2 separate regions of the Homo sapiens genome follow, and region 1 is linked to region 2. The links come from fine-mapping of genetic effects on gene expression. Tissue or cell type: prefrontal cortex. Region 2 holds a variant in brackets; the other region holds the start of a gene. All regions are shown on one strand. Distances are between the middles of the regions.

Evidence for each region. PIP is the estimated chance that this variant, and not a neighbour inherited with it, causes the effect.
Region 1: it holds the start of TRAF1, and the variant in region 2 is fine-mapped to the expression of TRAF1 in prefrontal cortex (GTEx, PIP above 0.99).

Annotation. Positions count from the first base shown.
Region 1 is chr9:120,925,504-120,928,123 of GRCh38, forward strand. TRAF1 (TNF receptor associated factor 1) reads right to left here and starts at 1,293. Exons shown (of 8, transcript NM_005658.5): 1 at 1,047-1,293; 2 at 433-798. The coding sequence starts at 572. RefSeq lists enhancers at 1-445, 42-111, 572-911, 1,252-1,571.
Region 2 is chr9:121,207,999-121,210,757 of GRCh38, forward strand. It overlaps a transcript of GSN not described here. Among named protein-coding and RNA genes, the nearest start is that of RAB14, 7.5 kb to the left of the region's middle. The variant G/A (reference allele first, on the strand shown) is at 1,643.

The sequences.
Region 1 (2,620 bases), 280 kb before region 2:
ATTCGTCTAACAGTTTGTCATTCACCAAGAGGTTTATATTTGTTATTATAAGGACTTTTGTGATTATTATTCATTGGGCTTCATTAACAATTCTATGACACAGAAAACAGCTTTACAGACAAGCGAGCTGCGGCTTAGGGACATTAGCAGAGCACCAGACCACACAGTGAGACAGTGGCCTCACAGCCTCGAGGCTCTCCTCGGTGTGGATGGCTTTCCCCTGTGGGAGCTGATGCCTTTCTGTGGCTTCCTCTCCTTCCACCACAGCCAGAGGGGCAGTGTCAGGGAGTGTGAGAAAAGGGTGTGGAAACTGAGGCCCAGAGAAGAAAAGTCACCGCCTGAAGTCACAGGCTCCTCTGCCCCTCACCTCCCATCAGGGGTCCCTCCCTGGCACCCACTTTCTGCCCACCCTCCGCTCCTCCATCACCTCACCTCGGGTTCTCAGAGAGACAGCCTGCACAGCAGAGAGCCCTGGGCTCCTTTGGGTCCTGGCAGACGGTGGGAGGGCACCCAAAGGGAAACTCATTCTCATCAGGGGCCGGGCGAGGACTGCTGCCTGAGCTGGAGGCCATCTCAGGGTTCCAGGCTGGCCAGAGGGCCTGTTTAAGTTGCTCCAGGGCAGGGGACCAGCCTTGTGGAGTCCTGGCCTGGGCCTCACTCTCTGGTGAGTAGGAGCTCTGATGACTTTATCTTCTTCTCTCTGGCTTGTGTGGTTCAACGTCACAGCTGAGTCACAGCAGGGATGGAGCAGGAATTACCCTTTGTGGCGATAAAAATCCCCTGGATGGTGACTGAAGGCTTTAGGAGTGTCCAGTCATTTTTTTTTTTTTTTAGAGTGAGAAAAAGCAAGAGAGCAAGTCAGAGAAAATGACCCGTGTCACAGACTCTCAGAAAGCACAGTGAGAGTTCCCCTGGTTGAGAATCGCAGGCTGCCGCTGGCTTCCCCCACTTCCCTGGGCACATCGGAGGAGGGGGCCACAGCTGGTCCCTGGTCTGTGTTCCCTGGCACCTCTGAGCAGCCTGGAATTCTCAGTGGGGGTGCTCACCTTCCTGGTGGAAATCCCCAGGGTGTTGGAGACAGGTCCAAAATTTCAAGTTCTAGGCGCTTTTGCTCTGCTCTGTTTGGAGTGTCTGGGTGACCTCAAGGAGAAGTCACTTCCTCACAGTGGGTTCTGATGACTCCATCTGTAAAAAAGAAGTTGCAACAGGTGGCCTCTGGGCTGTAAGATTCTGGGACCCTATCTTGCCTGGGACTGAGGCAACCAGAAGGAGCAGGAAAGCCCTGATGAAATCCAAGGCCTAGGACCACAGACTCCTCAGGGCCCTCCCCACACCACCCCACTCAGGAAGTCATAGGTGGCTACATGCTCCGGTCAGGTGCCACCACTTTACTGCCTCAAGGAGAACAAAGCGCTAAACAAATGCAAGATCACAGCAGCTGGTCTCAGCATCCAAGTGGGATGTAGATCCACATTTGCAGGAAAAGTGCACTGGGGAAACGATGGCTCCCAGAATGTGTACTGTGTGCTGGGCAACAGTTTCCCTCCAAATCCTTACAGCAACCTGCAAGGAATTCTTCTGCAGCTGTATATAGGGTCAGAGAAGCAAGATGCCTGGTCCAAAGGCACACAGCCTCTGGTAGTGGAGTGGGATTCACACCAGGGCTGTGGGGCCCCAAGCTCTGTGTGCTTGGGATGGAGATCAGAGTACCCAGCTCTTGTCTCATCTATCAAATGGAGAAGACAATCCCTACACATCTTTCCATCCTGCTTGGCTGCTACAGAGGTTTTGCAAACTTTCACAGTGGTTTCAGATCATGGGTTTTGAGGTCAGACAGAGCTGAGTTGAAATCCTGGGTCCACTGCTTACTAACTGTGGGCCCTGGGACAAAGTCCTTAACTTCCCTGAAACTCAGATTCTGCATCTGTAAAATGGGACAATAATACCTATTTCACCCATTTGTTGTGATGACTAAATGAGATAGTGGGTCAAAGTGTGGTGTGTAACCCAAGTGAAGTACTTGAATGACATTTGGCTCAGATGGTGACTACAGGCCTTCCAGCTCCTCAGAGAAAAGGATTAAAGTGGTGCATTATGCTTATACTGTGCTTTCACGTCTATCTACTGGAGCCTCAACAGGTGGGCAGGGCAGGTCATCTGGCCTGAGATACATTAAACTGCCCACCTGCCCTGGTGTAACACCAGGGCTGCCACAGGCTGGTGGCAAAGACAGCACGGCATCTTACCGCCACAATGTACATCAGGACCTCCACCCCCATAACAAACGACCTCCAGGCCTGCATCAAGACTATCAGAAGACACTCCCTTTTAACTGTGTACCCCATACCTGCAAGCTTTCCTGCAGCCAGCCCTACCTGTTCCCTCCTTCCCCTGGTTTGGGATAAAACAGGCACCCAAGACTTCTCTCCCCATCTGTGGGTCCCTTCTCTCCCCTCCGGCCTCAATACCACCCTCTCTACCTGCTCATTCCCACGGACATCAAAACGTGCGCAACCTGCTCTAATAAGAAAAGGGAAAAATAGTACTACTTTTGGGTACCGTCTTACGTAATTTTACAGACATCATCTCATCTAATTTTCACTCTGTGAAGCAGGTATTG
Region 2 (2,759 bases):
TTGGTCTTGAACTCTTGAGCTCAAGGGATCCACCCACCTTGGCCTCCCAAAGTGCTGGGATTACAGGCATAAGCCACTGTGCCTGGCCCAAATCACTTAACTTCTCTGAGCCTCAACTATAAAATCAGATAATAGATTTTCCCCTCACCCATACACACACGGAATTGTTGTTCAGATTAACTGGGAAAGTGTAACTGAAAGTATGTGGTACAGTATCTAGAATATTCCACGCATTCAACAAATGCCTGGTCCTTCTCTTCTCTCCTACCTTTATTCACTGATTCCCTCATCCATGTGAATCAGGCACACACTTAGGTTCCTGCCAGAGCCCTGAACCCCTTCCCCAGTTGGAAAGCACTTCTTGAGTACCTGCTTAGAATACATGGGTTCAGATGCTGCAAACAAGAGACTAAAGAATGATAGTGGCTTTCACAAGATAGAAATGTATTCTTCCCGCACATGGAAGTCTGGGTAAGTAGTACAGAGGTGATATAGCAGCTTGAAGGCAGCAAGATGTAAGTTCCTCCTTGGTTATGGCACTGCCACCCCCAAATCATGCTTCTATATCATGGCTCAAAATACTTACTCCAGCTAACACCAGGAGAGGGGAGAAAAAGAAGTAGATAGCACATGCCTTCCTGTTAAGTGTATGACCCAGAAGTTGTACCTATTGCTTTTGCTGACATCCCATTGGTAGGTCACATGGTCACACCTAGCTGAAAGGGATGCAGAGAAATTTAGTCTTTGTTCTGGGGAGGATTATTACTAATGAGGGAAGAAAAGAATGGATACTGAGAAACAACCAGCTATTTTTGCCATACCATCCTTCATTGCCTAAAAGGGGGGCAGGTGTTAGAGCACCTTGAAGGTCCAGGGAGGCTGATGTTAAACCCTGAGGCCACCAAGGTGAGGACAGGGACCATCAGTGGACCATGAAATCTTTCCCACCAGTGCAGTTCCCTTAGGATGCCCATTTGGGGCTCTATGCAGGACTCTGAATAAATAGCATTCCTTTGCCTCGTCTGACTTCTGAACAAGTTGAGATATCAACAAAAAGATGCAGAGGAAGGCCAGAATATTTTCTTTATTAGTGATATTGCCAGGTTGGAGAAGAAACTTTTAGGGTTGGTAGCTGAAGGGTGCCACTAATAGTGAACCCCAGAAGTGGGCTGCAAAGACTAGGGCAGGCCTCCTGCTGAAGGGAGCAGGGCTGAGGAGCAGCTCCCTCCCTATCAGAAGAAGTGCTGAGTTGGGCATGACCAGGTATTCTCAAATGTACAATCCTTCATCCTTCCAGGAATGGATAAAGCACGGAGAGGAACCAAGAATGTGCTCAGAAAAAAATCCTTCCTCACTGAAACCAGGACTAAGGAAAGGAGATTCCCTTCTACCATCCATGGTGAGCAAAGAGTGGGGCTTGGAATTAGCAGCGGGGGGTGGGGAGGGGGGAAGAAATACCAGTGGAAGCAAGCATAATAGTGCCTACAAATACATGAGGGACCCAAACTGACAAGTCAGAAATCATCCAACACTGTAATTGGATTTCAGTCCCAGCCTTGCTTCTTAGTAGCTGTGTGGCTTTGGAAAGTTCCTTAAGGTCTCTAATTCTTCATTTCCTTGTCTCAAAAATCAGGAAACAGCA[G/A]CATTTAATACCTATGTGAATTATTAAGAGAAAATGAAGCAGAGCATGAGAAGCTCTTAGCATAGTGCCTGGTAGGGAATAAACACTCAGGAAACAGAAGCTGCTAGAATTATTTCCAAGAGCCAATACATAGCTCCTGAAAGCAGTTTCCCCAAGTAAGTTAGGAAAGAAGAAAACCTTTATCTGCTATCATAGAATTCAACAGAAATCAGAAAGTTTTCTTTAGAGTAATACAAATAATTGGAGAGAAGAGATGAAGAATGAGAAACAGGCCTCTCTGCATAGTATCTGGAACAATTTGGGCTAGGCCTTCACTTTCTCATATTCTTTGTGCCATGAACACACATACACGCACGCATACATGCACAATAGACCAGTCAAGATTCATCTAGAGGTGATATAATAAATCCCTACTCTCAGGAAAGGATATTGCCTTTATAGATATATTAGTTAGGAGAGGCTAGGTTTTACTGTGTAAGAAATGACTCCAAAATCTCAGCGGATTTAAACCTTATCACAAAGGTGTGCTTCTTGCCCACTCTCTATGTCCATAATGTGTCAACTACTTCCCTGTTCCACACCATCTTCACTTTAGGACTCAGGCTGACGGAGCACGCTGCCTGTCTGTGTCTCTCCGTTTCTCTCTCTGGAACGTTGTCAGATGTCACGGCGGAGGGAAAAGAGACCTGGTGAGTGACGTGCTAAGTCTTCAAGCTTCTGCTCCAAAGTAGCACACATCACTTATGCTCAAATTTTCTTAGCCAGAGCAAGTCTTATAGCCTCATATTGATAGAGTTGGGGTGCATAATTCTCCTTTGGGGAGGTGAATATAGCTGAATGTAACCCAGTCTACCACAGTGGACTCCCCAAGAGCCAGAGAGACAGCCACTGAGAGCTGCTAATATCTGGCTGATCTGGGGCCTTCTCTTTGCCTCAGTTTATCCTCTGTGAAATGGAGATACCAGCACCCGTCCTGTGAACCTTACAGAGAAGGGCTAGGAATGCACGTGGGATCACCGACATGCATGTGGTTTGGCAACTGTAAACTACCACACTTGCATGAGAGGGTTTCAATACCAGTATGAGTGCATTGGAAGGGATAAGAACACATTATAAA